Linked DNA regions of Homo sapiens. The protein of the gene in region 2 purifies or fractionates together with the protein of the main gene of each other region. This does not show direct contact. Each region holds a gene or a part of one and is shown on either strand. Other genes may lie near its edges.

Region 1 (8,391 bases), on a different chromosome or scaffold from region 2:
CAATGGAATATAATACCCTTGCTGGGTAGATATGGCTAAAAATACATCCTATAACAAGTGTTGGCAGGGATGTGGAGAAATTAGAATCCTCCCACACTGCAGGTGGGAATACAAAATGGCATCACCACTGTGGAAAAGCAGTTCCTCAATAAGTAAAACATGGAATTGCCATAGGACCTGCCAATTCCACTACTGGATATAGACCCAAAAGAATGGAAAACAGGTGTTCAAACGAAAACTTGTAGACAATGTTCATAGCAGCACTATTCACAACAGCCAAAAGGTAGAAACAATGCAGATGTCCATCAACTGATGCATGGTTAAACAAAATGTGGTACAGCCAAATGAGAATATTATTCAGCCATAAAAAGGAATAAGTATTGATATATGCTACGGTATGGGTGAACCTTGAAAACATTATGCTAAGTGAAACTAGCCAGACACAAAAGGCCACATATTTTATGATTCCAATGAAATCAGCAAATCCATAATTTCTGCTTGACTAACACAAATTAGTGATTGCCAAGAGCCGAGGGAAGGGGAGAATAGGGAGTGGCTGTGTAATAGGTATAGGATTTTTTGGGGGGGTAATGAAAATGTTCTGGAACTACATAGTGGTGATGGTTACACAACATTGTAAATATTATTAAATGTCTTTAATGGGAAATTTTTTATGTGTATTTTACCACAAATATATACATATATATATATATATACGCATATATATACGCACATATATATACGCAGACATATATGCACATATATATACACACACATATATATATACACACACACATATATATACACACATATATAAATATTTGATGTCTTATATCCTGTATTTAAAGGGTCTGGCACAGTGCCTGGCATATAGGAGGTGATTTAAAAAAGCAAGCAACGCAGGAGCCATTACAAAGCTGGAAGTGCCTCTGGGGTTGTCTTAGCCAATCCCCTCATTCCTGAATGAGGAAACTCAGGCCCGGCGAAGGAAAAGAGAAAATGACCAATGTTACATAATAACAAAACCTTTATTTCTAGTGGGCATCCCAGTTAAGCCTTTTCCACACTTCTATGAAATAGGCAAACCAGGTATTAATATCCCCATTTTACAGGTGAAGAAACTGTGGCTCTGAGAGGTTAAGAACCGACAACCAGGTCTAACTCTGAGCCTTTGCTGACTCCTCTTCCATCTGACTTTGAAAAGCTGGAGGGCTCAGGGCTCGCCTTTCTGTATCCTTCCCATGCCTTTCTTTACATACTGACTATATAAATGGCTTTCTGTATTACATATATTGACTATATAATGGCTTTCTGTATCCTTCCCATGGCTTTCTTTACATACTGACTATATAATGACAACTCTCAAATTCCTGTTTCCAATTCCTACTCTTTTCTGAATTCCAGATTTGTATGGAGTCTACCTGGATGTCTAATGGACATTTCAGCCCAATACGTTCAAAGAACACCACATCCCACCCCTCCCCTAAACCTTCTCGGTTTCGCATCTCACCATCTTAGAAAACAGCTGCACTACTCACCCAGTTGCTCAGGCCCAAAATCTAGTAAGCATCTTTTATTCTACTGTTTCTCTATACCCATAATGAATCTATCACCAGGTCCTATTGTTCTCTCTGCAAAATATACCCAGACTGTGACCTCTTCATCATGTCCTCCACTAGATACCACACTAGCTTGTGTTGCCTTTGTACCTAGATGATGCACTTGCCTCCCAAACTGGTCTCCCTGCTTCCTCCGCCCTTGCCCCTTACAATCCGTTTGCTACATAGCAGTGTGAGTAATCTTTAAAGGTGTAGAGAAGACAGTATCACTTTTTCTGCTCATAGCCTTCCAAGAGCTTCCCATTACACTCCAAAAAAAATCTAAACTCTTTTCTGTAGCCCTCGAGGCTTAAGCCTTTGCCTTCACCTTCTAGCACTCTCCCCTTGGCTCACTCCACTCCAGCCACTTCTCAAATACACCAAGCTCAGTCCCATCCTCTGCCCAATTCCCTCCCTGTCACATAGCTCGCTTCTTCACTTCCTGTCTCTCTGTTCAAATGCCAAACCTTGAACACCTTGCCTCCCACCGTCCTGCAGTCTACCGTGCTTCACTGTTTGTTCTTCATCTGACATAATATTATTCACTTACTCATTCACTGCTTGTCTTCTCTACTAGAATGTGAGCTCCAGGAAGGGGGCATTTTGCTTGCCTTGTTTACTGCTATACTATAGATGTTCAGTGCTATTTGTTGAATGAATAAGTGCTCCCCAAGAGTTCCTAGCCCTACACCAGCAGAGCAGAGATTTGGCGGGGAGGGGAATATACACCCCTTCCCCCAGCAGCCCCTTACCTGTCTTTGTATTTGGACAAATTCTCTTCCTCCCAGGCAGTGTTTCCACCTCCAAAGTTGTCCCGGATGGTTCTCTCCAGGCCCTGGAAACAGAAAATTAGTAATAGCTAAGTACAGTGCCTGGCACATGCTAGCACTTCACTGTTCTACTGACTAGGAAACTGAGGCACAGAAAGGCAACCTGCCTAGGGCCATACAACTAGTAAGAGACCAAGATGAAACTTAAATCCACGCAGATTTGCATCCCAGAGTTCCCCACTCTAAATCGCTGTGTTCCCCTCTAACGAGGCTGCCGGTGCACCCACCTTGTTAAAGCTGTCAACCAGTCCCCGGCAGGTATGACACGGATGGGGCTGAGGCGGGGGAGAAGACTGGGGAGGTGGAGAGGGCTGGAGCCAGATAGGTCCTGGGAGGTTGAGGAAGAGGCTGAGGCCCCAGAGCATAGCTGGGACTAGGCCCTTCGGGGGCCATGGGGCCATCTTTACCCAGGCTGGGGACCTGCAGATAGAGGGCGTGGAGAGGCTTCACTGAAGGAGTCAGGCCCCACGCGAGAAAGAAAAAGGTCTGTTCTAAGGTGCCGTGGCGCTGGGATCTGCGTTATTACAAGCAAAAGAGGCCAAACTGGGTATTGCAGGGGCTGTGGGGATGGGTGGGGAAAGGCGCATAAGATGCAATTCCAGAAGAGAAATAAGTTATCCTCGCTAGCATGGGGTGGAGAGGAAAGTGGCCTCGCTCCTTGACAAGGGGGCAGAAGTCAGCCTCTTGTCTGAGGGTCTGATAAAGAATATTAGGGGCCGGATCCGCAGAATTAGGGAGAAGAGATCAGATTCCAAGTACTGAAGGAGAGGAGGCCAGAGGGGTTGTCTTGGGGGAGGTGTCCGGAACCCCGGGCTTGGAGGGAGGAGCCCGGATCCGGATATGAAGGGAAGGGATCAGATTCAGGGCCTCGCAGAAGGGCAAAGGCACGGCCCACGAGCCGGCAGAGAAGGATCCAGACCCTCGTAGGCCACGGAGAAGGAAGAAGCGACCGCCCCAGCCCGCGGGCGCCGTGGGCCGTCTCCTCACCGCGTCGCTGCCACAGCCTGCGTAAAACGCACAACCCCCACCCGCGCCGCAGTCCAGGGGGCGGAGCTTGCCGCCCAGCCAATGGCGACGGGCCATGTGCCATTACGTCACCCCACGCCAGCCAACCAGAGGCGGCACCGAGCTGCACCTGTCCGGGCTTTAAAGGGCCGCGGGGCTAGGGAATGACGTTTGCCAGCCCCGCCACTGAAACGGAGACGCGTGTGGGCCACATGGGTAGAAAAACAGCGTCTGCCTTTATTTAAGTCCCGTCCCCCGCCCCAGGTCCCGCGCCTGGTCCCACCCCGCGTCCCGGCGCGGGAGTCCCCGGGGGATGGAAGTAGCTATCCAGGGCTGGCTGAAGGGCCCGGGACACTTGCTCCGCTCTCTCTTGGAGCCGCCCGGAACGCGGGGCGCGAGGCTGCTGCAGGGCCCCCAGGAAGTCTGGCAGTTGGGAGGGCAGTGTGAAGACGGGCACGGTGCGGAAAAGGGCGGGTACGGCGTCCGGGTGGAGCAGCCTGTCGAAGCAGGCCCCCACGTAGCTGCCGGGCGCCCGGCCCTGCAAGAAGTCGGGCAGCACGCAGCTGAGCGAGGCGCGGAAGGCGTCGTGCGGGCCGTGCGCCCCGGGCCCGGACACCCCATCCTGTAGCCACTCGCTGCACAGCGCCACCGCACCGGGAGAGAAGAGCAAGACCACCACGCCGCCCTCCTGCAGGGTCTGGCGCCGCTGCGCGTGAAACCAAGCCACGGGCCCCTGCGCGCTCAGTTCACGACGGCTCCACAGGTCTACGGCCACGCGCAGCGGCAGCTGGCACAGGGCCGACGCCAGGGCGCCCACCAGGCGCTCGAAACCCGAGTCATCGGCTGAGTAGAGGAGCAGAGCCGCGCGGCCCCTGGCGGCCGCTGCCGGAGAAAACAGATGGGGAGGGAAGAGGTGAGCTGGCACAGGCCTGGCTCCCCGGGGGCGGCCCTCCGCCCAGCGCTTGCTCCCACTCACCCCCCGAGCGGACGTCCTGTTTCAAGAGCCTCAGCCACCCTGTTAGGGGAGAGGGGCGGAGGCAGCCAGTGAGCTCGGCCGCCGCTTTCCCTCGGAGAACTCCCACAGCCACTCTGGTCCTCCCCCAGGGGAATGGGGAGCCGGGAAGCGCTCACCTTTCGCGTGATCCTTTTTGAGAAGGAGGATGAGGGAAAGCGCAGCGGCAAAGAGTAGGCAGGCCAGCCACACGAGGGCCCAGCGCTTGTGGATGTCTGGGAGACCCAGAGAAGAAGAGTTAGAAACTTACCCTCCACAGAGAAGAAAAACTGAGACTTAACAGAAATGAATTGGGCCGGGTGCGGTGGCTCATGCCTTTATATAATCCCAGCACTTCGGGAGGCCGAGGCGGGCAGATCACGAGGTCAGGACATCAAGACCATCCTGGCTAACACGGTGAAACCCCGTCTCTACTAAAAATACAAAAAATTAGCCGGGCGTGGTGGCACACGCCTGTAATCCCAGCTACTCGGGAGGCTGAGGCAAGAGAATCGCTTGAACTCGGGAGGCAGAGGTTGCAGTGAGCCGAGATCGCGCCATTGCACTCCAGCCTGGGCGACAGGGTGAGACTCCTCTCAAAACAAAACAAAACAAAACAAAAAACGAAGAAATGATTTGCCCAGAGTCCACAGCACAGTGTCAGAGCCAGTGGATGAATATAGCTCCATCTGTTTAGGGGTCTTTGAATAAGTAATGTCACCCTCTGCCTCAGTTTTCTCCTCTGTAAAGTTGTACCTGTGTCATAGGGTTGGTGTGAGGACTAAATATATTAATACATATAAAGCTTAACACAATGTGTTAATACATACTTAACACAATGCCGAGCATCTTAAGTGCTAAAATGTCAGCTGTTTTTCTCCCCTAAGCTAGGGTTGCTGGGCCCTTGATCTTGCTGTCCTGGGTGTCTGCAACTACCTGGTGTCCCTGCCCTGTCTTTTTTTTTTTTTTTTTACCTCCAATTGATTTGCCTTGAATTGATTCATGACAGCCTCAGAGATCTTTTAAAAATATAAATTTGGGCCAGGTGCGGTGACTCACGACTATAATCCCAGCACTTTGGGAGGCCGACGCGGGCGGATCACGAGGTCAGGAGTTCAAGACCAGCCTGGCCAAGATGGTGAAACCCCATCTCTACTAAAAATACAAAAATTAGCAGGGCATGGTGGCAGGCGCCTATTAATCCCAGCTACCCGGGAGGCTGAGGTAGAGAATTGCTTGAACCCGGGAGGCAGAGGTTGCAGTTAGCCGAGATCGCGCCATTGCACTCCAGCCTGGGCAACAGAGTGAGACTCTGCCTCAAAAATAAATAAAAAAATAAGTATATATATATATATATATATATATATATATATGTGTGTGTGTGTGTGTGAAATATATAAAAATTTGATCGTAGCTCCTGCTGCTCTCAACATAAGATCCAAATCCCCTACATGTCTCCTGCATCTTTATCTCATGACAGAAACCTGCCTGTCCAAGACCCTGTATCTCTACCCCCTTCCCCTAGCTCAGTCTTCAGAGTTTTGCTGGAACCTTCCCCCTGAGCCCCTCACCCCTCACCCCACCCAGGTCAGGTCCACATTGTATGCATTTACAGCACTGAACACTTGGTGGTGCTTCAGTAGCTCCCACTTTAAATGTAAGTGACTGGCTCATGTCTTGCTAGTCTTCTAGGGGTGGGGCGGGGGCAAGGATTTATATTTTTGGTGTTCCTGCGATCCCTGCAAGCTCTCATCATTTTTTGAGTGAATGAAGGAATGACCCTCTGTTTATCTGATCTCAGGGAAGGACAAGGCCATTGCATGTGCTGTGCCCAAGAGTGGTCCCTGTCAAGATCCCCACTCCTGGTACAGAAAGGAAAGGCAGTTCTTACAATACTCACATTTGTCCATGGGGCAGGCCCATAGCGCTCCCAAGTCATCGTCCCATAGCTGTAAGATACAAACAGAACCAAATCCAGGGCACCAGCCAGGTGTTCCAATATTCACCAAGCTCTGGTGGCCTGATCTCCAAATTCCCAGCATCAACTATGCATATCTCCCGGCTAAGGTTCCTGCAGCTGCTCTGCCTTTGTGCTGTGCCCACTGACTAGGGTATGACTTCTTCCATACCAAATCTGGCTTATAGGAAGAAATTCTTCCCGGAAGCTCTCCCTGGAACCCAAAACTTAGCACCTGTAGGTGTGGTTATCTGTTTATGGGTGTCTAGCCAACAGTGTGCTCCTTGGGGATAGGAACTGTGCTTCTTCTACTCTTAACTTTCCCAGGGCTGAACATAAAATAAGCCTAAATAGACAGTAGGTGAGTGCTAGTTTTAGGCCTGTTGCCCCTAGGCATTGAGGTGGGGCCCTTCTTCCACCAGCTCACCTGCAGACACTGGCCTGACTGCAGGTCTTGTAGTAAGTACTCTCCAAGGCGAGCTGCCCTCTGCCAAGCCAAAGGATGGGGGCACTGTTACCTGGAGGTAGCACCCTTAGGGCAGCACCTACCAGGCTACAGCTGGGTAGAATGAGGTAGAGGGGACTGGGAGACTTTGGTGATGCCGCTGAATATGGCCCTGGTCTGAGTCACCCCCCATGTTCCCAGAGACCGGCACAGGGTGGATGGAGTGAAAATTTGAGGCCAGATGTGAGATGCATTTGGAGAGATCTGTGGAGGAGGGTCGCCCAGTCCTAACCGTGGAGGCTTTGCTGGGTAGTGAAGTACAGCCACTGGGTTCCAAGGCACAGAGGGATCTGTTGTCCTGGGGGCCTCGTGTCTCCAACAGTAGCACATCGTCTTTGAGAGGCCCCAGGGAGTCTGGAAGGGGTGAGAGGCCACTCTGACCAAGACCCATCCTTGCTGGGATTGGCCACTTGCCTGCCTCCCATGCCCTGACCTTCACCCCTAGGAGGTGGCCCTGCCCCAGCTGCCCCCAGGCCCAACTCACCAGCCCACAAGCACTCCTGCAGCTGCAGCTTCTCCGAGCTGTTCACCTGCTGGGAAGAGACCATGGTTAGGGCCACTAAGAAAAGCAAAAGCCAAAGGCAGAAAGACCAGAATGGGGCAGGCAACAGAAGGCCTGTTGGGTTGGGAATCTGCACTCAATCTGACCTGAGGCAGATGTGGATTCAAGGCTGGGTGATTAGGAATCACTACATCTTTCTCTGCCCCAGCCTTGTGAGATCATCTGTATAAAGCGTCTTCTGACCCTAAAGCTGTTTTTATGTCTTACGGAGCATGGTTCCCCTCTCATCTAACCTTCTCAAAGAGATTCCTTTCTCACATGACCACCCTGCTAAAAATTGCAACCCCAGTCCCACCTTATCCCTTTCCCATGGTATTTGTATGCAATTTTAAGATACTATATGATTTATTTACAATGTCTGTTGCCTGCCTTTCTCCATTACAATATAAGTTCTATGAGGGTAGAGATGTTAGGGTCTATCACAAGTGCCTAAAACAGTGACTTGTGCTGCTCAAAAAATCTTGAATGAGTGAATTTTTTTTTTTTTTGAGACGGAGTTTCACTCTGTCGCCCAGTCTCACTCTGTCACCCAGGCTGGAGTGCAGTGGCGCCCTCTCAGCTCACTGCAAGCTCAGCCTCCCAGGTTCACGCCATTCTCCTGCCCCAGCCTTCCTAGTAGCTGGGACTACAGGTGCCCACCACCACGACCGGCTAATTTTTTGTATTTTTAGTAGAGATGGGGTTTCACCATGTTAGCCAGGATGGTCTTGATGTCCTGACCTCGTGATCTGCCCGCCTCGGCCTCCCAAAGTGCTGGGATTACAGGCGTGAGCCACCGCGCCTGGCCGGATGAGTGAATGTTCTTATAATCACCCTTTGAAACTGTAGAGCAACCCATTCTACAGGTATGGAAATAGAATAAGGATAGCAATAATAAAAGTGGCTACATTTATGGAGCATTTAGTCTGTACCGATTCCTAAGGGGAAGCACTTCTCTTATTTC
Region 2 (7,434 bases):
GGGGGTGGCGCCTGGTCTGAGGCCCGGGAGACAGGAGGTAGGAGGGACAGGGCCAGATACCTGGAGGAAGGGATGCTGGAAGCTGTGCTCCTTGCTCCCTCCACAGCCCTCGGCCATGAAATTGTCCGCCCATCTGTAGGAGAGAGAGGGAAGGTCAGACCCTGTCAGCATCCTACCCTGGTGCTAGTGAAGAGGCTCACACCTCTCAATGTCAAGAGGCCCAGACCTGGGTGACCCGGCCCCAGAGTGGGGCTCCCTCTCAAAGGGGTCAGTCTTCACCTCAAGGAGTTTTAACTTGGCATTTCCTCAAGTCACTGTGTCTGTGCCTCTGTAATGCACAGAAATCACAGATACTCTCATGATCACATTACAGTCATTGTATATATCGTGAGGTATCATTTACACTCATCACTCATGAACATTACAGTAGTCAGACCCACTTATAACAATGTAGTAGAAAGCATTTCTATATAGCTGGGCGCAGTGGCTCACGCCTGTAATCCCGACACTTTGGGAGGCTGAGGTGGGTGGATCACTTGACGTCTGGAGTTCGAGACCGCCTGGCCAACATGGTGAAACCCCGTCTCTACTAAAAATACAAAAATTAGCCGGGCGTGGTGGTACAAGCCTGTAATCCCAGCTACTCAGGAGGCTGAGGCATGAGACTCACTTGAACCTGGGGGACAGAGGCTGCAGTGAGCCGATATTGCACCACTGCACTCCAGCCTAGGTGATGGAGCAAGATCCTGTCTCAGAAAAAAAAAAAAAAAGCATATCTATATATATTCTATATCACGAATTTGCTTTTTTAAGTGTTTGATAACTGTATTTCAATTTAATTGACTTCTTTTGTAATCCTTGGTCTTTTTTTTTTTTTTTTCTTAATGGAGTCTCGCTCTGTCGCCCAGGCTGGAGTGCAGTGGCAAGATCTCGGCTCACTGCAAGCTCCGTCTCCCGGGTTCACGCCATTCTCCTGCCTCAGCCTCCTGAGCAGCTGGGACTACAGGCGCCCGACACCACGCCTGGCTAATTTTTTTTTGTATTTTTAGTAGAGACGGTGTTTCACCGTGTTAGCCAGGATGGTCTCAATCTCCTGACCTTGTGAACCACCCTCCTCAGCCTCCCAACGTGCTGGAATTACAGGCGTGAGCCACCGTGCCTGGCCCAATCCTTGGTCTTATTTACACGTTTTAAAACATTACTGTAAGAAGAGGTCCATAGGCTGTGCCAGACTGTCAAAGAGTCCCATGGCATGAAAAATATCAAGAACCTCTGGTCTACAGGAGTATTTGGGTCCTGGGAAATGACTTAATACAGACCACCTGCTCACCTTCAAAAAGCCTGAATGGTTTGGAAGATCTTTCTAATGCTGACTTTCAAGCAGGTGGCAAAGACATCACACTCATGGCATGACCTCCCAGTCAGCACCCGGCAGATGGTGATGACTGATTATGACATACTTCCCCGATGAGCCTAGACACAAGCCCAGAATCCTTTGTGGCATAGTGCTTTGGGCAGCTTAACCACCAATCACTCTGAACTGTCTGCCATCTGTGCATGAAAATTCTCTGTCTTGAATTTCGTCTTTGCTGGGCTTGGTTAGGTCTGTGGAATCTTGTCTAATCTTTCATTTGAAAGCCCTTTAGGTACCTGGGGACTTGTTGACCTTCTTCTGAATCTTCTCATCTCCTGGCTAAACAGCTCCAGCCTCTCCTAACCTTTCACCCCTGGCCACTGACTTCTGGAAGTACTCTGGTGTACCCAGGCCCAGAGCCAAGAGCATGTGATCTGGCCCAGACTGAGGCTAGCAAGGCGTGGCCCTCCCTCATGTTGACACCCTGGGTTCGTTGACACAGCTCCAAATGCATCAGTAACATCATGTGCTGACTGAAGTCAACACAGTCCCAGAGCCGTTTCCTGTGGGCCACCGACCTGCTCCCACTGCAGCATATCCTGCATAGGCAGTGGATGTCTTTAAAGTGCAAGACTCGGGACTTCTTTTTATTAAATGCCTTTCCTTGAAATGTCTTTCCAGGGCAGTCAGATTGCAGTGCACAGCCCTGCACTGCCATTGGCTCATCTCTGTAGCGAGCCTCAGCTCCCAAAGGGCGGGGGAGTCCTCTGGTTCCTGTACCTCCCCCGCAGCACCCAGAGCATGTGCCACTGGTTGTGCCGCAGTTAGGGTCTAGGTTTGACAAAGTCCCTGTCCAGCTTTGGCTTCTCTATATGCCTCTGAGTTTGCGGAAGAAAACAGGGCTATGGCAAACCTATTCCATAGTGAGAGACCCCACCAGCTCCTGGAGATGTGGAGAAAGAGGGGTAGTTAAGATTCCTTGTGGTTCTTGGGAATGGCAGGGGCAAAGGAGAGTTGAAGGGAGAAGTTCGGACAGAACTGTTTAGAAGGCAGAGAGAAACCTGGAGCCTGGCATGGCTTGGGGACCAGGCTGTAACCAGTACCAGTGGGGCAAAGAAAGCGCCTGCTATGGAACAGGGAGTCTGGGAGCTGGGGAAGCCTCCACCCCAGGTCAGGAAACACCTGACCTCATGGGCTGGAGTCTCACTTCTTTCTCTTTTTTTTTTTAGAGAGAGGGTCTCACTATGTTGCCATGGCTGGTCTTGAACTCCTGGGCTCAAGCAATCCTCCCGCCTCAGCCTCCTGAGTTGCTGAGATTATAGGCATGAGCCACTGCACCCATGGTGCCTAATTTCTGCCTGATATGCTGTTGGCTCTTGGATCCCTGGCCAGGACAGGACATGGAACATGGGTAAGGGCCACAGACCCAGCAGGGCTGCTCTCGAACCCAGTCTTGCTTTTGCAGAAAGAGCCCCCTGAGAAGGCCTGCATGAGGCAACTGAGTGAAACAGAGGCAAAGCAAGGAAGAGAGAAGAGGTCAAGCCTTACCAAGGGCACAGAGCCAACTGCCCAGAGCAAGTGAAGTCAGAGAGATGGGAATCCCCAGGCCAGGAGCCAAGTTTCCTCTAGGAGGGACAAGGGAGCTATTGCCAGGCCATGAAGGTTGATCAGAAGCTTCAGGCAAGGATTATTATTTATTTTATTATTATTTTTGTCTGTAGGGGGCAGGTATGGAAGCTGAGGCCACATTTCCATGAGTCCTACTTCCCACCTGAGTCTGAGGGCCCCCTGCTGGTAGAACAAGTTGGTCCATAGGGGAAACCCCTCGGGGCCTGTCCTTCCCCAAGGCTGGGGCGCTTCTTGGGGAGCTGACTGTAGGGCTGGTGCTGAGCTCCCCACCTCCCACAGGGGTTGTCTTCGCTTTCTCCACGGGTAGGTCTGCCTAGACAGGCCTGGCTGGCAGCGCTCCCGGCTGGGGAAATGGTATCTCTTTGTATCTGAGGGCCTGGGGCAGGCTGACAGCCCAAGGGATTGGGTGTCAGCAGCATGGGCTGCCTTGCCCAGCCTGAGATGCTCAGGCCTGCAGGTACCTTGGGGCAGAAAGCCAGGCTTCTCATCCTGGATTGGAGACAGGTTTCGACTCCTGGCGCAGAATCAGAAAAGACCCCAGCCTCACAGGCTAGAACAAAAATCCAGCCCCAGTTTGCCTGGGGATGACAGCAGTGACCCCTAAGGTGGGCAGCACTTTGCTGTCAGTTCTTCACAACGTTTGTTGTTTGTTGTCTTTTGTTTTTGTTCTTGTTTTTTTTTTTGAAACGGAGCCTCCCTCTGTCACCCAGGCTGGAGTGTAGCAGCGCGATCTTGGCTCACTGCAACCTCTGCTTTCCAGGTTCAAGTGATTCTCCTGCCTTAACCTCCCAAGTAGCTGGGATTACGGGCACCCACCACCATGCCCAGCTAATTTTTATATTTTTTGTAGAGACGGAGTTTCACCATGTTGGCCAGGATGGTCTCGAACTCCTGACCTCAAGTGATCCACCCGTATCAATCTCCCAAAGTGATCGGATTACAGGTATAAGCCTCTGCGTCCGGCCAACAACGTTTGTTTTTTTGTTTTGTTTTTCAGACAGGGTATTACTCTGTCACTGAGGCTGGAGTGCAGTGGCACAATCACGGCTCACTACAGCCTCAGCCTCCCAAGGCTCATATGATCCTCTCACCTCAGCCTCCTGAGTAGCTGGGACTACAGGCATGGGCCACCATGCCCGGCTAATTTTTGTATTTTTTGCAAAGATGCAGCCTTGTTTATGCTGCCCAGGCTAGTCTCGAACTCCTGGCCTCAAGAGATTGACCTGCCTCAGCCTCCCGAAGTGCTGGGATTACAGGTGTGAGCCACTGCACCCAGCCCATGTTTCCTTAAATGCACAATTCATAGGACACTTCATGGGGACTGTCCCGTTAAGCCTTACAACAAGGATCCTCATTTTAGATGGGGACTCTGAGGCTTAAGGCAGATCCAGGGTTAAACCTTGCTTGAATTTATACTCAGAAAAGGCAGAATACAGAGAAAACCCAGAGTTTTGAGTCCCACAGGCTGGACAAGTTACAGGGTAATCATACCAACACTGACAAACTGTCAGAAGCAATACATGATATAAGGATATATACATGACCTGGCACATGGCAGGTATTCAGCAAAACTCATTTTCTGCCCCTTCTCCTTTCCCTTCACTGAGCAGAAGCCATCTCCCCCTTGGGTTCAGCGTGGCCCCAGCTCCCCTTCAGCCTGAAAGCTACTGGAAAAACGTCTGGAACCTGTCCTGCTGGCTGAGGCAGAGGTGGCTGGAGGGACCTCAGGCTATTGTCCCTGCAGTTCACAGAGCCAAAATGCTGAAACAGAAGAAACTCAGCCATCAGCTGAACTCCTTATTTGACAGACAGGAACCCAGGGGCCAGAGAGGGCTCGAGGGGCTCACGGCTCCTCAGATGTTGAAACAGGGCCAGTACACTGGAAGCTCAGCAGGCAGTCATGCGCCCCCTCCCTGATGCTCTGAAGCTCTCCTCTGAGTTCTTGCTCCCCTAGCTGGTGGGAGGAGAGGGGCAGCCCAGTAGGTGGGCCTGTCTTCTCCACAGACACTGTATTCTAGGGGAGATGACCTCCAGGGCAGGAGGCCCGAAGGGTCCTAGCGGGGACAAGCTGAGGCCGCTCCTTTTGGCGGGCAGGCTGGGGAGTAGGCTCTCCGTGCTGGGTGGTGAGTCACTCCCTAGCATGGCCAGGCCCAAACTCAAAGCTCAGCATTCTGGGAGGTGTGCACGTCCACGTGAACGGGGGTGGCGAAAACAGACTGAGGAAGTGGCGATGGGGCTGGCTTGGGCAGATTAGCTGTGGCCATTCCCACAGAATCTCTGCCACTTCCTCTTGTGTCCCCAGCTTGTCAAGCCCAGTGAGTCCCCTTCTTTCTCCTGCCTGGGACCTACAGAAGGGCCAAGGCTTCTCCACTCTCTGGGGTGCCACAGCAGGTGGCCCTGGCTCCTGAGGTGACAATGGTGAGCCCTCTCATCTCCATGGAATGGAAAACTTTCCTTAAGCTGGGTGTGGTGGTGCATGCCTGTAATCCCAACACTTTGGGAGGCTGAGGCAGGTGGATTGCTTGAGCCCAGGAGTTTGAGACCAGCCTAGGAAACATGGCAAGACGCTGTCTCTACAAAAAATACAAAAATTAGGTGGGCACGGTGGCGGGTGTCTGTGGTCCCATCTACTTGGGAGGCTGAGGTGGGAGGATGGCTCAAGGTTGCAGTGAGCCTAGATGGCACCATTGCACTCCAGCCTGGGCAACAGAGAGAGACCGTGTCTTAAAAAAAAAAAAAAAAAAGGCTGGGCACAGTGGCTCATGCCTGTAATCCCAGCACTTTGGGAGGCCGAGATGGGCGAGGTCAGGAGATCGAGACCATCCTGGCTAACACAATGAAACCCTGTCTCTACTAAAAAAATACAAAAAAATTATCCGGGCATGGTGGCAGGCACCTGTAGTCCCAGTTACTCAGGAGGCTGAGGCATGAGAATGCGTTCACCCGGGAGGCGGAGCTTGCAGTGAGCTGAGATCACACCACTGCACTCCAGCCTGGATGACAGAGCCAGACTCCGTCTCAAAAAAAAAAAAAAAAGGAAACCTTCCTCAGTAGATCTTCAGTGTCCAGGAAGAAGGTACGGCAGGGATCACCAAGTCCATTTTACAGATGAGAAAACTGAGGCTCACAGAGGTCCAGTGGCTCATCTATTCCTCAGGTCCCAAGCCTCATGAACTTCCCACTCTACTACACTGTCCTCCTGAGTTAAGGCTTCCACAAGCTGGCCCAACAACCCCTTTGAAGCAATTATCCCATGCCAGTTCATGGAACCCAAGGGTGGTGGGGCAGCTGCCAAGGGCAAACATTGGAGCTGGCACAGAAAGGACACAGAAGAAGAGCAAACACCTCTTCTCTAGTAGAGGCCTAGTGGTTTCCAGGCTTCCTGCCACCTTCTTGGCAGGGTCCCTGGCCTGGGCATGAAAGGAAGTCAGGCTCATATCCCTGCCTGGCTGGGAGGGCCCTACAGCCTGCAGAACTTAGGAGGGGAGCTGAGCCTTACTTAGTGAGCATCTACTTGACCCTGGCTCTATTAATTAATTATTTATTATTATTATTTGTAGAGAACGAGGTCTCCCTATGTTGTCCAGGCTGATCTTGAACTCCTGGGCTCAAATGATCATCCCACCTCAGCCTCCAGTCTGGGATTACAAGCTGGAGCCACAGTGCCCAGCTGACCCCGGCTCTTCATATGTAGAACCTCAGTTGGATTCAGGAGACTGGGGTTCTGAAATGAGTACCTGTGGATGGGGCACTGGCTCACGTAGACAGAAATGGCTTGGCCTAAAGAAGATGATCGACAGAAGGTGCTAGTGAGGAGGTTTTGAGAAAACAGCCAGGGAAAGAAGAAGCCACTTCACAGGGAGGGGCCCCCTGCCAGGACCCAGGGATGGGGCCGCAGAGAGGAAAGCTGACCTGCCGCCCCAGCACAGCAGGCAGCACGTGCTCAGATGTGCTTCCTCATCCACTGCCTTTCATCCTCCCAAGAACCTGGGAAGGGAAACATCACTCTTGTCACAGGCCAAGAAACTGCCAGAGACAACCACAGGCTGTCAGTCTGAACCTTGAGTGGCCTGGACTCCAGCGGGAGGACCCTGTCAGCAGTGTCTCTGGGCTGGCTGAGAGGCTGGCAGCCCAGTCCTGGAGAGAGGCACATCAAAGGCTGGGAGCGCAGATGCCACTTACAGGTTTACAACTTCCACAAGCACAGGCTTCTCTGTCCTGGCCTGGGGAGCTGTGAGAGGAAACTCCCAGGAAGGAGGGACTCTGGGGTATCACAGTCATAAAAGAACAGGACTTAAAGTCCTGAGGCCTGGGTTCCAGCCTTCATTCAGACACCAAACAGTTGAATCACAGAAAGAAACTTCTCCTGAGGCCTCCTTTGTAAATTGTGGGGATTAGACTGGATGATTTCTATGCTTTTAACAACTCTAAATGACCCCAAAATGACTGGA
Region 3 (7,434 bases), on a different chromosome or scaffold from region 2:
GGCTTTAAATAAATGTAGCATCAGTTAATATGGTAGAAAACTGTTACATTTCTTTAAAAAGAAATACTATGTTCTGCTTTTTCATCCCTAAATCCAAGTTAAAAATAAACAAACAAAAACTTTCAAAAATTATAGGAGTTACTCAAAACTTATGTATTAAATATCAATTCTTTAATTACTTAGGGCACTAAAACTGGGCAGCTATCATATAGAAATAGAGGCACTCTGCAGGATAAAGTTCAAATGATACTTACAGAGGTATCATAATTCCCAGGTGGAGCAATGTAAGTTACAGTTCCTCTGTTTCGTGGGGGTAACATGATTTTGTGTTTGATAAGCGAGTTCTCACTGACAATTCCATAAATGTCTCCGCCAGTGATATGACTACCAACCTAGAGATAAATGTATTTGCTGTTTAATTTGCAAATAAATGTCAAGTAGACTTGCCCCTGCTGCTATAATTTAAATCAATTACCTGACTTATCAATAAAACATTAGTTCTAAAATCCCATGAAGTAGAGTTAAGAAAAACTTTAAACTATCCTTCTGTAGTCTATTTTTATTTGGACTAAGAGTACAATGTAGTTTACTAAACATTCATTTTATATTCTTTCAATAACTTCAGAAATTCTTGGTTACACAGACATACCCGTAGGTTTTTGCAAGGTGTAAAGTCCCATTTGATATCTCTGCTAAGAGCAGACACGTTTACTCCTCTGGGGATGTAGATGCTTTGGGTCTGACTGCTGATATCCGACAAAGGTCTTTGAATACCATCAAAAATGGCTCCCATAATGCCAGGACCAAGCTCTACAGAGAGGGGTTTACCAGTGCGAAGTACAGGATCTCCAACAGACACACCAGCTAAAAACAGCAGCTAAGGAAAACCTACTATGAAGGTTTAAAGACACAATTAACAGGAAATACCACAGTTTAACAAGGAAATGCCACTCAAGAAGTGAAAACGGAAGTTCCCAAACTTTCTCAGTTCACAGGATTCATAGTGTTTTCAGTAACTTCTTTCAGTGTCCCAGGACAAAAGATATATCTAACACTTGCATTTATTAAACAGTTATGTCTAAACAACCTAATATGTATATACGTCCTAACAACTGAGTAGCAATTTGAAAAAATATATGCATAAGTTGAAAGAAAAAATAATATTAATTTCAGTCCTAAATATCCATAATTCTCATGAATGTATATGCCCTTGGGGAACTATATAATTTTCCAATCTTGCAATCAGATTGGAAACTTGTTCCATTTTGATTGTCACATGATACCTGCTTTTGTAGCTTAGCAACTGCCAAAAACTCAGCTTTGCAAAGATATGACATCATTGACAAAAATATAGTACAGCAACATAATGAAACTGTTTATTATCTCAAGCTACTAGTTCATGTGGTGTCTGACAATATGTCTAACATTCCTGTGTTTGCCTCAAAAATTTTAAATATCCTGGCACCACATGAGTTTGCTGCAGCTTCTCAGAATGACTCTGCAAAGTTTGGGAACCACAGGGCTAAAAACAGAAGCAAAACTCCCTCATTAATACATTGCTTCACATATGCTGCTGAGGAATATCAGTCCCCTAATAAGGGTATTAGTACTTGGACAAAACCTAAAATCTTAAGAATAAAGTTATTTTGAAAACATACAAATAAGAATAAAATATATAAATAAGCATAATGAGTCCACTTTATTCTACACATTTGTTGACAGGAGTAAAATCAGTACAACTTTTCCTGAGAGCAATTTAGCAATATTTATCAAAATTCAAAATGGGTAAGTCGTGACCTAGGAATCCAACTTCTGTGAATTCTTACTATACTTACAATGTAGCACTGTTTATAACAACCAAAAACTAGAAACCAAAACTTCTATCATTAAGACATTGATAAGTAAATAATGGTACATTTATATGATGGAATTGTTATATGGCTGTAAAAAAAAGAACCAGAGTTATCATGAATTCCTCTAGAAATCTCTCTAAACTATGTATTTTCATTTCCAATTTTGATTATGAAAATTTTCAGAACAACAACAAAGTTGAAAGAATTTTACAGTGGACTCCCAGTCTCTACAAGCTAGGTTCTATATTTAACATTTTACTATATTTATCACATATCTATTTATCTTCTAGAATACACATACTTTTAAGTGAAAAAAAGCAAGGTGTATAACAGTACCTAAAATATGCTATCTTGGGAGGCCGGGGCAGGTGGATCGTGAGGTCAGGAGTTCAAGACCAGCCTGGCCAAGATGGTGAAACCCCATCTCTACTAAAAATACAAAAAATTAGCCGGGCATGCTGGCACGTGCCTGTAATCCCAGCTACTTGGGAGGCTGAGGCAGAGAATTGCTCAAACCTGGGAGGCGGAGGTTGCAGTAAGCCGAGATCATGCTACTGCACTCCAGCCTGGGCGACAGAGTGAGACTCTGTCTCAAAAAGCAAACAAACAAACAAAAAAACCATATATATATGTATATATATATATATGTGTATATATATACGTATATATATACACATGTATATATATATATAGAGAGAGAGAGAGAGAGAAAGGAAAGAAAAATACAAATATTTGTATTTGCTCATGTATGTAATTACTAAACTAGAAGGATATAAAATAAAGGGAGCTATAAATGTGGTTCCATGTGTGCATGGAGGTGTGTATGTGTTTTGATAAACGGCTAGATACAAGACAACAAAGGCAAGGAGGGTTGTCACTGTTTACATTTTCATTTATTTTAAATCTTCAAGCCATGAAAAAGATTAAACAGATTAAAAGATAAAAGTAAAAATAGAAAAAATATTTCTGATTAGTCACAATTTCATAGCTACAAAAACTTCTATTTTTATTTAAAATTTCTAGATGATTTTGTTTTAAATTGGCACCTAGTACTATAAAGAGACTAGTTATCTGCACGCATGTGTTTTAGAATGGCAAAAACGTCGTACCAAATAAATCTTGATTAAATACTCAAAGAATTAATGCTGATTTTGAGAATCAAAGTAAAACACATATAGAAGCACTAAAAAAGTGGTTCTTCTTCACTAGGCTTAACCCTTTATTTTTCATAGAAAATTGAAAATAAATACTATGTTTAAAAGCCAAAATTATGATAACCAAATAGTAAAGCTTTCCTAGTAATAAAACTGAAATGTAATATGTCACTCAGTGCTATCAAAAGAATGGTGACCGTTTTATTTGTGGACTTACTATTTTAAACTGAAATCATAATTAGAGAATTTTAACCTCACAAGTCAATATTGTTATTCTGTTTACGCTTTCTTCTACAATATGCGTCCCAATGAAGAAAAAATTCACTTGGTCCCCCTTAAGTTCATGAATTACTGAAGCAGTAAGAGCAATGAAAGTTCAGAAGATACTAATTTCTTAAAATAAGAGTACCAATTCATAGTACTTTTCTCTCTTTCTTTAACATACTCCTGCATAATTCAGGTCTCTTCACAACACCAGCATTTCATGCTTCTAATATCATTAGTTGTTGCTGCTTTGCTGCTTCCACCTTTGGCTTAAATCCTCAATTTTTTTTTTCTTTTCTGAGATGGAGTCTCACTCTGTTGCCCAGGCTGGAGTGCAGTGGTGCGATCTCTGCTCACTGCAACCTCCCACCTCCAGGGTGCAAGCGATTCCCCTGCCTCAGCCTCCCAAGCGGCTGGGATTACAGGCGCCTGCCACTATACCCAGCTGATTTTTGTATTTTTATTAGAGATGGAGTTTCACCATGTTGGCCAGGCTGGTCTCAAATTCCTGACCTCAGGTGATCCACCTGCCTGCCTCCCAAAGTGCTGGGATTACTTTGTGTGAGGCACTATGCCTGGCCTAAATCCTTAAATTTTGAAATATAGAAAGTGGCAGGAAATTGAGCCAAAAAGGATACAAGTTTCTTCATACACCTGAATAGTAGCCATGTCACCCTCCAATCGAATAATCTCTCCAACCAATTCGCTGTGGCCCACTCTCACCAGCTCATACATGGCTGCACCCGCCATGTCACAGGCTGTAACCACTGAAGAGAACAAAAGACTATTTTGATGACTTAAGACTCTAGTGCTCTGTGAATAGTCACAAATAATTAAAACACCCAATAAACCCAGTATTGTGCCTCTCTCATATATTCATAAGAAGGATAAAAACCTACTATGGAACATACTGGTAGTTTCACATAGATATATATTTTAGTGTATAATATAAAGAGGTAAGCCAAAGATTATTTATTTACATAATATACATGAAAACTTTTCAAACATTTCAAGTTCTGCATGGCAAACTTACCTGGTAGGATTCAGGTATGTTCTGAGAGTTGCTATGATACATGGAGTGAAGGCTTTGGAACAATAAAAAAAACTTTTAAAAGTAGAAATTGGAATAAATGGTTTGGCTAGTAGTATGGTAGAATGCCACACAATTATCACTTCGCTGTGCTGTTACCATTTCCTTTGAGAGACAGACCTAAAGCAACATGTTTACTTTCTAATAACTTATAGCAGTAGTTCTTAAAACTCTTCTGGGACATGGACCCTTTTCAAAAACTAATAATAGCTCTACTAGAAAAACTCACACACACATCTACAAAATTTTTTTCATAGGCCGTAAGGATATTTATAATCAGTCACCACCATTGGGTAAGAAATTGTCAATGGAATTCCATTTACTGAACTTACTATTTTGGACCATGTGGTCTAGTAAGCAAAAATTACTTTTCTAGCAGGGAAGGAAGGTTGCCATATTTTTAGACACGTGTAAGAATAAACCAATTTTTAATATTTAGCCTTCTGATACAACTGATTAGAACTATGTTATAGGTAATACTTCAGTGGAAACTATTAAAGCTTTATGAGTTAATTAACCTGTGTAAAAACAATGAAGACTTATTCATTCTATAAATATTTACCTCTATGCCGACTACTTAAGAATTAAGATGCACTGAAATACCAGAGATAATGAAATTTAAAAATCATATTTCATAAGCCAAAAAAGGATGCCATTGTTCCATTACCTTATTAAGTACTTAAGAATTAAAAATTGCAGGAGGCAAGGGGAGGGAGAGCATTAGGACAAATACCTAACGCACGTGGGGCTTAAAACCTAGGTAACAGGTTGATAGGTGCAGCAAGCCACCATGGCACATGTATACCTATGTAACACACCTACACTTTCTGCACATGTATCCCAGAACTTAAAGTAAAATTTAAAAAAATTTTTAAAATAAAATAAAAATTGTTTCCAGGAGCAGTTTACTACACAGTTTCACAGAATATTTTTTCCTAAACTCTCTGATGTTCTTTTGCCTTTTCTCTAAAGGTTCTTGGGTTTAGTCTGTCCATCCTGAAGACCCTTATGATCATTGAGAGGACAATTATTTCTCTGCATGGCAAAAGATACTGATAACCTTTTAATGACCTGCCAATGAAATCAAGCTCAAACACCAAGTTCTTGGGGGAGAAAAAAGAGGCACAGTGACTGACAGTCTTCATTTGCGTAAACATCAAAAAACTGTCATCACCACTACTCTAACTAGAACAAGAAAAAGACTATATAGCATGAGGTTTTAAGGATAATACATCACTGACCAGGTTTTACTTAGAGAAACTGTGACTGTGAATCACATTGTGTAGTGGGAGTATTCAATAACAAAACAAATACTGGCGTAAGATTTATTATTTAAAAAGCAGCACTCCATGTTTTGGCAGAATGGACATAAAGTTTGGGTCCTAAGACTTCTTTCCCACAGGTAGTTAATAATGTGACACTTAAAATAACCATTCAAAAAGTTTCATAAATGCAAAGGGCAAAAGCTAATATTGCTGAGAAATGCTCTGAGCGTTTGAATTATTAAAGTTCAAAGCAAATTAACATTTACTGAATGCCTGCTATATGCAAGGTATTACATATTAAAAGCTATAAACTTCATAGTTTATTTACCTCAAATTTAACAAAAAATTAAGACATATAAAACTGAACACTGGTTGAACATTTACATAATTATAAACAGGATATCACAAAGTAGTACCTCAATAATTATAAAATTTAGATAATCAATGCTAGATGAGCCCTTATGACAGAGATTCTACTTCGGTCTTATAGTCACTATGAGATCGCCTAAGGACAAACAGAATTTATGCAGGTAAACAGAAAGTTGTATATTTCTATGTAAAATATTTTGAAAAGACATTAATCAAAGTTAGATATCCTTATTTTGAGATTATGATGTATTACTTACCAGGTCCTGAGACCCCATGCACATAACCAAATGTGCTTTCTTTATCTTCATCGAGTATTTTGGGTAGCTTGGAAAAATCCATAATGTTAGTTTACCTATAGTAAATAAATAAATAAATAAGTTATAATTATAAACCGTAAAGCAAAAGACCCAAAATATAGGTAGTCCACTAAGATGAGACCACTCTCATCTTTGGTGTATTCTTGAGTTATTATACTTCTTCAAAGTAGAATAAAAAAATTCCTTTTCTTAATTTAAAAAAAATTTTTAAGAGGCTCTCTGTCACCCAGGCTGGAGTGTGGTGGTACAGTCATAGCTCACTGCAGCCTCAGACTCCTGGACTCTAGCGATCCTCCTGCCTCAGCCTCCCAAGTAGCTATGACTACAGGTGTGTACCACCATGCCCAACTAGTTTTTTGTTTGTTTGTTTGTTTGTTTTTTTGAGACAGAGTCTAACTCCACCACCCAGGCTGGAGTGCAGTGGAAGGATCTCTGCTCACTGCAACCTCTGCCTCCCGAGTTCAAGCAATTCCTGTGCCTCACCCTCCAGGGTAGCTGGAATTACAGGTGCACGTGACCATACCTGGCTAATCTTTGTATTTTTAGTAGAGACAGGGTTTTGCCACGTTGGCCAGGCTGGTCTCAAACTCCTGACCTCAAGTGATCCACCCACCTCAGCCTCCCAAAGTGCTGGGACTACAGACGTGAGCCAGCCACTGAACCCAGCCAAAATTCCTAAAATGTAGTTAAAAGTACCCTATTCCTGGATGCTGGATGGTTTTATCACAACTGAATTATATCTCTATGTGAGGTATTTCATAGGAAATATCGATAACTATAACAAAAAATGTGAAGTCTTTTCAATAACTTATCCACCCCCACAACAAGCCCATCCTCAATGACCTCTCTGACTTATCCAGCTACTCTTTCACTTAATCATGCTGCAGATACACACTGAACTCTTTGTCAGCTCTCAAAAACACAAGCACATTCTACCTCAGGGCCTTTGTACAGGTTGTTCCCTCTGCTTAGAATGTTATTCTCCAAGGTATCTGCTCCTACACCTCCTTCAGGTCTTTTTTTCTAACACAGTCTGTCTCCGTCGATTTGGCAGGAGTGTAATGGTGTGATCATGGCTCACAGCCAACTCAACTTCCTGGGCTCAAGAGATCCTCCCACCTC

The links.
Region 1: the proteins of SLC35F6 (region 2) and CRELD1 purify together in Homo sapiens (affinity purification with mass spectrometry; 2 studies listed by BioGRID and IntAct, with this or other methods). This does not show direct contact.
Region 3: the proteins of SLC35F6 (region 2) and ATP6V1A purify together in Homo sapiens (co-immunoprecipitation; 2 studies listed by BioGRID and IntAct, with this or other methods). This does not show direct contact.

What each region holds. Positions count from the first base shown.
Region 1 is NC_000003.12:9,928,877-9,937,267, reverse strand, and holds the start of CRELD1 (protein disulfide isomerase CRELD1 isoform 2 precursor), read right to left. Parts: upstream 3,435-8,391; 5' UTR 3,348-3,434; intron 3,218-3,347; exon of another isoform or gene 2,849-3,217; 5' UTR 2,830-2,848; coding exon 2,656-2,829; intron 2,434-2,655; coding exon 2,351-2,433; intron 1-2,350. Other genes in the region: IL17RC (interleukin-17 receptor C), read right to left, coding at 3,675-4,315, 4,410-4,448, 4,565-4,660, 6,325-6,373, 6,809-6,868, 7,119-7,240, 7,371-7,419. UniProt on the Homo sapiens protein: Protein disulfide isomerase. Promotes the localization of acetylcholine receptors (AChRs) to the plasma membrane.
Region 2 is NC_000002.12:26,766,950-26,774,383, reverse strand, and holds part of SLC35F6 (solute carrier family 35 member F6 precursor), read right to left. Parts: intron 134-7,434; coding exon 61-133; intron 1-60. UniProt on the Homo sapiens protein: Involved in the maintenance of mitochondrial membrane potential in pancreatic ductal adenocarcinoma (PDAC) cells. Promotes pancreatic ductal adenocarcinoma (PDAC) cell growth. May play a role as a nucleotide-sugar transporter.
Region 3 is NC_000003.12:113,777,654-113,785,087, reverse strand, and holds part of ATP6V1A (V-type proton ATPase catalytic subunit A), read right to left. Parts: intron 6,348-7,434; 5' UTR 6,335-6,347; coding exon 6,253-6,334; intron 4,039-6,252; coding exon 3,910-4,038; intron 865-3,909; coding exon 650-864; intron 393-649; coding exon 255-392; intron 1-254. UniProt on the Homo sapiens protein: Catalytic subunit of the V1 complex of vacuolar(H+)-ATPase (V-ATPase), a multisubunit enzyme composed of a peripheral complex (V1) that hydrolyzes ATP and a membrane integral complex (V0) that translocates protons.